Homo sapiens: one gene and its partner. The protein of the gene in region 1 interacts with the protein of each later gene in a pairwise test. Each region holds a gene or a part of one and is shown on either strand. Other genes may lie near its edges. The genes, in order: RBP3 and NID2.

Region 1 (3,819 bases):
AACAAGAAACTTAGTGATCAAATATGTTATCCTTTCCTTCTGCTATGTAATTAATACATGTTAATATATTAAAGGCCCTGACAAGTCCTGCAGTCAGAAACTTGTTGATAAATTTCCCCCATTTATTGACCATGGACTGCTCCCCTGCACCCATATCTTCCTATGAGTGGAACACATTTTGGGAAACATTGTTTTTCCCGTTGCATTCTGTGACAATCTTATGACACCTACCAGCTGTCTTAGTTCAGGTGTCTTAACAGGGCACTTAGTGTATTGAAATATTCAGGCTTGTGGAGCTGCATTGGGAGCAGGGGAGCCTGTATTTCTCCCAGGCCATTTAGATTTGTCCCACTGTGTGACCTCGTTGGGCCCCTGTCTCCCCACTGGGGCTAGTGATGTGTTAAGGAGCCTCGTCCAACTGATGGCCTGGGATGGCCTGGCTGGGTTCGGGGCCTGTGATGTCAGTGTCTGAACCTCCAAACAAACCTCAGGGGTGGGAGGGTCTTTAAGCAAAGTGCACTTGCAGGCTGGGGCCATCTCCTCTTTAAAAAGTGTAAATGGCATATTCAGAAGAAAGAGACTTAGCATGAGTGTCATTTGGGTGCTCAACAGAACTTCTAAAGAATAAAATGATCAGAGAGACCCCAGGAGCCTCAAGCTCAGGCTGTGAACACACACAGAACTGGAGCCAGGGCTAATGTTTTATCTCCCAGGGAGGAGAAGCAGTGGGTGCAGGACCGAGAGCCACCTAGTGACCACTAAGAACCATGTGAGTGAGCGCTGAGGGCTAGAGAACTGGAGCTGGGTGAATGCTTCTGGTCTGCCACCCCCTGCCACTTCTTTCAGACAACACGGGAGCATGGAAGGGTCCCGTCTGAGGAAGGCAACCTGCCCAGGGAGGGTGCTGGGGCATGTCCACCAATGGACCCCAGAGTCATGGGATGCCAGGTCTGGCCACTGCCTGAGGGTACTCATCCACCTCCTACCCCTGGTCCATGAGGTAAACTCATGACATATGAGGCACATTTTTACAGAAACAGAGGGGAGGTGGCTAGCTGAAGACATCCTTCTGACAATCATTTGGTGATGCAAAGAATTCTTTTGTTAACAATAGTGATTAACTTCTAAATTTTCCCTGTGTGATTTCCAAATTCTGCCTGTACGATTCATATGACCAGGGTTGTCATGTGTTGATTTTGTATGATGTGAGGCACACTCCCAGGTGGGGGGCCTGGCTGTCTCACACACCACTGACCATCAGAATCACCTGGGATGCCTGTCAAATAGAGATTATCGGGCCTGTCCCCTGGAGCTTCTGAGTCAGTAAGAGGGGAGTGGGGCCCAGGAATCAGTGTTTTTAACATCTCCTTCCTCTCCTCCCCACTGAATCCTATGACCAGGCAAATCTGGGGTAATTCTCAATCTGGAATGCACATTGGAATCACTGGAGAAGCTTGCAAAAACTACCAGTGCTGGGCCCCACCTGCAATGACAGCAGATCTGCTGGGCTAGCTGGCCGAAGCCCTGATAGGCAGGAGGCCTGGCCCCCCTCAGGTCCTCTGCTGTGTCACAGGGTTCCTTTTCTTCCCTGCTGTGGCCCATAGCTTTGACTGTCCCCTGGCAGCCCTGCGTCCTGGCTAGGAAGCACTGACCCCTGGCCACTGACCTCATGTCGATGATCATGGCATCCGTGTGCATGATCTTCTTCCAGATGTGCTCCACCAGCAGCCTGGAGACCTGGGTGAGCAGCTCACCGTCCCCAAACATGTCAAACCTCAAGTAGCCAATGTTGTCCTCAAGCACGTTAGTGTGGAAGGAAAACTTGATCAGCTCTTCAAATACTTCAGGGGAAGGGATCTGTAAGAGTTGGAGGTCCTACTCAGTGTCAGGAGGAGCAGCCAGTTTTAGAGCCCAGGAAAGCAGGCGCCATGGGAAATATTAAGGGCATGGGACAGGAACTAACATTTCTGAAGGAATTAGTAGACACCAGGGACTTTCCCAGTGGCATGTCTGGATGTGACATGCCACTGGGACATGTGTGATCTATGGGCAGCCTCCTTGCAGAGGATGCTCCTGTCTGCCACCCACATGCCCTGGTGTCCTGAGCTAGAAGGCCCAGGAATGGACTCCCCTCTGACCTCTCCAACCTTACCAGATACTTCCTATGTCTCTAAGCTGCTCCACTGGGGCAGGATTGGAAGATGTTAGTTACCTTTACCAGGCACCTGGCCCGGTACTAAGCACTTTGTAGAGCTTATCATCATCCTCACAGCCACCTGTACAGGAGATAACACGATCCCCATCTTTTCCATGGAAAAACTGAAGCACAGAGAGATTAAGTAACTAGTCTCAGGTCACACAGTCAGTAAGTGGTGGAGCCAGAATCTGAATCCACATCTGACTCCAAATCGTGAACCTTGGCTATACTGGAAAGGAAGGAGATGTTGATTTGGAAACTGGGGATTCTGCAAGCCTAGCACAGGCTACTCGCACGTGGATGCACCTCCTCCTCCCTCTCTAAGGCTGCTGGAGGGAGGCAGGTCTTGGTGAGATTGACAGGCAAGGAGACTTCATTGACAGAGACACTGCCCTCCAGGCCCTGCCCTGCCCTCAGTCACAGCTCTCTGGCCTCAGGCCACTCCCCTCTGCTCCTCTCCGGGCCTCAGTTGCGGAAAATGGGGATAACAATTCTGTAGTAGATGCTTTTGGCACTCTCAGCCCCCTCTGCTTTCAGCTGCACCCGACCCCACTGACAGGCTCTCCTATAGCACAGCCCTGCCTTTCCACCCGTAGCTCAGGCCTTCTCCAAGAAGAGGGAGCCTGCCCCACCCTGAGGCATGTCTCAGGGCAACTCTTGGCCAATGCGGGACAGGAACCACTGGGCCCTGCCTGCAGAGGGCTATGCCTGGGAGCATCCCTGCACTCGTCAGGGTCCTGGCTTCAGCAGAACAGCTTTGAGGCACCTGCCTGTCAGCTTCCCAACCCACTCTCCCTGCTCCCTCCTTCATGCCTGCTTCAGTAACCGCCTCCCAGACAAAGCGCCTGCACCCAAGCCCTGGTCTCAGACCCTCCTTGCAAGGGATCCCATGGCAAATGCTGCCCTGCCCAATTGTGACGATGCAGCAGACCACAGGTAGAACAGTGTGGAGGTGTGAGTGCTGCCTAGGTGGAGCTCTCGGCCAGCGTGGGGCACTTGGTGAAGTCCATTGGCCACCTCTGACAGGTGTTGGCCTCTTCCCTAGCACTGACAATGAGAAGCCCTGCCAACACTCACCTTCCACCCAGCCAAGGCTGAAATGCCTTCTATCCCAGGAGCTTCCGAACTGGCTTCCTGTGAGTATTGGTTGGCTTTCAAACTGGCTTCCTGTGAGGTGGGTGCAAAAGTAATTGCGGGTTTTGCCATTGAAAGTACTTTTGCACCAACCTAATATGAATGTTCTACAGAGGTGTTCAGCAACCCCAGGGTCACAGAGAGTGGATGGAACAGGTTGAGAAAGAGGAAAGGACTTGACCGGTCAAAACTTAAACGTGAGAACAAATCTAAAAGCCATTGTCACGCACTGTGCACAGAGCCCTGCATGTGCGGACAATGGGTCAACTCACTCCCGGGACTGGGTTCAGCCAGGTCTCTCTTGGGTCTCACCTGCATGGGCACAATTCCAGGAATGCGGTCCTTGGCATTCTCAGGGATATGGGCTGCCTTCAGGTGTGGGTCTCCGGAGAGCATCTGCAGGTCAGCCCCCAGGATCTCGGCTAGGGCCACTTCTGAGGTCACCCTGGAGTAGCGGCTCTGCAGACCGCTCAGTTTGGTGGCCATCT
Region 2 (3,819 bases), on another chromosome or scaffold:
CTCTAAATTTAGAACCAGGATTCTCTCCTATCTCACATTTATTATGGCAGATCAATGCCAGGAGCTTTGAAAGCTTAGCTTTTTGAAATGGGGTTTTTTCTCCTTCCTCTAGTACTTTTCTTTCCCTAGTTGATTTTTCTTTATTCTGACTAATGTATAACTCTGAAGTTATTGAGTCCACATTAGTTGATGATGTCGACTATCTTATGGATAGACATGAGGCAGAACAGCCTTTGTTTATATTTGGCAGTAGTTGTGGCTTCCTAGTATTGAGAAGCTCTAAAAACATTTCTTGCTTTTTGTTTTTGGAAAAGTCAAGCTTTGCTGATGAACAATCAACAACTGGAACAATAACAAATAAACTAGGCACCTGTTACTTTGTGAATTGAATGAATGAAAAAAGCAAAGCAAGATGTTGTTTTTTCTGGGTTAGAGAACTAAAAGAACTGCTGATTGTATTTTATTTTCTCTTGAAAAGTGTGTTACATCTATATTTCTTTATCCTATTAGCAAAACCTCAAAACCTTACTTTGAAATTAAACATTGAAAGGAAAAATTAACATTAGAAAAGAGCTAGAACAACTGTGGGAGTAGACTTAGAACAAAGGGAAGAGCCCATTCCTTCCTTGCTGTTTCCTTCAGTGAAATGTGATGTTCTTCTCTGTGCCCGAGTTTGTCTGTCTAGCAGAATGGAAAGGTAATGATACTTACCAGTAAATAATATTTCTAAGAGTCACATTATTTGTGAAGTAAGTTGTGTTTTAAAAATACCTTCCCAGTTCCTTACTAAATTGTAAAAGTAGTGTGATTTAGTGAGAGAGAGACAGTTTCAGAAGCCTAAACATAACAGCTTTTTGAGAATCAAGCACTGTTCACAGATCTTTAGGAGGAGCGGTCGCTGAATGAAGGTAAAGGCAAAAATCTCATCTTGTTGAAAATATGAGGGTAAACAGAATGTTAAGGAGTGATCCTATAAGGACCTGGGTGTTGAATTGGCAGCTGATTCAGGCTCCTGGTCCCTCTCTGGTCTGTGTTGGCTCCTGCAGTGTTTATAACATTCACCAGCTGCCTCTGTGACACCTCCCAACCTCCACCCTGAGATCCTGGACACACACCCCGGCTCTTGGCCTCTACCACCTTCTCCAGTGACTCTCCTACCATTTCAACCATGGCTGTTTCCCAGTCCTACACCGTGAGACTCTCCTGGGCAAAGCCTGTCTTTTGCTCCTTCACATCCTCAGCATCAAGCATAACGTCTGGTGCTTAAGTAGACACTTGGCTGTTTGAATTAGTGTATGAATGAATAAATGAATGGTGTTTACAAACATATAAACAACTAACCAAGCATAATGAGGTGAATGCTCACTAGAGATGCCCATAAAGGTGTTACAGAGGTTCAGAGAACAGAAATTATTCTATAGGGAATCACAAACACCTCTGAGTGGCAGCATTTGAAGGTTAGGAGGCTTTCTAGGCACAGGGAACCACGAACAAAGTGTAGAAGCATCCAAGGACATGGTACAAATGGGGACTATTAAATAGTCTGACAAAGATGCAGTGGAACTGAGCCTGGGAGGGACGTATGCAGCCAGGTTACAACTCACCTTGAATGCCATGTTGAGGAGGGGTTAGGGTGTCCTAGGGTGTGGGCTCTAGAGCTGGCTGGCCCACCACCACATACTTGCCACCTGACCTGAGGAAGACCTGTTAGCCCCTGTGTCTTTTTCTCATCTGTGAAATGAGGATAACCCTGATGCTCGTATGAAAGGGTAGATGGAAGAGGAAAGAGAGTGATGCTGTGAGACAGTAAGGAGGCCTTTTGACCAACTAGTGCCTAACACAGTGCCTGCCCATAGTGGTCATTTAATAAATGGATGAATGAATGAATGAATGAATGATGCAAATGAGAGATGCTGAGTGCCTAGGGTTATAAACTAGGGCAGTGACTGCAGGATGGACAAGTTAATTTTGCTGATTGCTCTTAGCTCTGAAAGAGTTTACATGAGAGAAGTTTGAAACCTTACAAAGTATATATTTTTTAACCTATGTTTTACCAATGCGTATTTCAACTATTAATCTAAATTGACAAATGGTATTTGCAATAATAAATAATATTGCTTATGAAATTATATTGTTAACTTGAAGAGGAAATTTTAAAGAAGGTTATGTTTAAAAACAATTTGGAGGAATCCTGAAAAAGGGGAAGTTCTTTGCACGTTATGATGCTTTGCTTGCATTCTGTTTCTTTCTTCTTTTATTTGTTTTTTACAGGATGTTTCTCTCTCTCTCTCTCTCTTTTTTTTTTTTTTTCCTCACAGCTGAACACTTTCCAGGCAGTTTTGGCATCTGATGGGTCTGATAGCTACGCCCTCTTTCTTTATCCTGCCAACGGCCTGCAGTTCCTTGGAACCCGCCCCAAAGAGTCTTACAATGTCCAGCTTCAGCTTCCAGCTCGGGTGGGCTTCTGCCGAGGGGAGGCTGATGATCTGAAGTCAGAAGGACCATATTTCAGCTTGACTAGCACTGAACAGTCTGTGAAAAATCTCTATCAGTAAGTAACATTGAGCTGAAGCCCTTTCCTATTTGAATATAAGGACTTTTAGGAAGTACCTGAACACAAGTGACCATAAGACCATTACATAATATATTGGTGGCTTCTAAGTAAGGCATCAAGTCAAAACCAAGGAACTAGATTCAACCCTGGAAGGATCAAGTTCACCAAAACATAAAAGGTCCTTTATTTTTCCTGCTCTATTGGGTATAGATACTGGAAACAGAACAGTATGTGTGTGTATTTGTAGAGCCACTGAGGCTTGCTATGAAAAACATTGCTCTTGGAACCACATAAAAATATCCAGTCATAAACTGCCCAGTTTGAGGTTTTCCAGATTAATCATTTCACAGGAGGAAACATTGTGATTTAGTCTTTTGGACAGATACTGTTAAACATTAAATTGAGCAATGTAATTTGCAGGAAAAATAACTAAGATTTATAGGTTTCCAGAAGTCTGAGGATGTCTCTCTGGCTTCATTACCTAAAATGAATTGAACCCATTCCTTAGACTCATCAGTGTCTGCCCATAATGGGCATTTAATAAATAGATGGGTGAATGAATGAATGATCCAGAGGGCTTACTTAGCTAGTGCAATAATAAGCTCTTCTGCATTTTGCCAGTACAGATAGTGCCAGTAGGATATTTATTGACTTCAGGGTTTTTTGGGGGGTGTGTGAGGGGAGGTAGGGGTGCCCTCGCTTTTATTCGTTTCCTGAATATAGAAGCCAGATAGAATACATTGGTTACTTCCTGGCCTCCTTTAACTGCTTCTTGACTTCATTAAATCAATCCTGGGTAGGTATAGAAACACCTTACACTTTTAGCATGCCATCCACTCTGCTCGGCTACCAGAAAGAGACCACTATAGCCAGGTTTGCTTACTCAGAGCTGACATTTATTGAAAACTTACTACTTGCCAAGCATCATGCTAAACACTTTCCAGATGTTATCTTAATTAAAACTCACAAGAATTGTAGGTTAGTACTACTATTTTCCCAGTTTTACAGAGGAGCTTAGGGAAGTTAAGTAAATTGCCTATGATCTCAAAGTTAAGTGGCAAAGCCAAAATCCAAGCTCAAGTCTGGAGTGCTGAACTACTTATTTTATCTTATGCTGAGTCCTTGTTTCCTTTCCCATCCTTATGATCCACATTGGGCATCTTTAGGGCTCCATCTAGGCTGCCGCTTAGTCTGGACTCTGGAGCAAACTCAGTTCCTTACTCTCCCTCCTCTGGTTCCACCCTCTCTTCTACTTGGGAGCTCAT

The links.
Region 2: the proteins of RBP3 (region 1) and NID2 interact in a two-hybrid assay, tested with the Homo sapiens proteins (one large-scale study listed by BioGRID).

What each region holds. Positions count from the first base shown.
Region 1 is NC_000010.11:47,351,363-47,355,181, reverse strand, and holds part of RBP3 (retinol-binding protein 3 precursor), read right to left. Parts: coding exon 3,644-3,819; intron 1,858-3,643; coding exon 1,667-1,857; intron 1-1,666.
Region 2 is NC_000014.9:52,058,856-52,062,674, reverse strand, and holds part of NID2 (nidogen-2 precursor), read left to right. Parts: intron 1-2,318; coding exon 2,319-2,551; intron 2,552-3,819.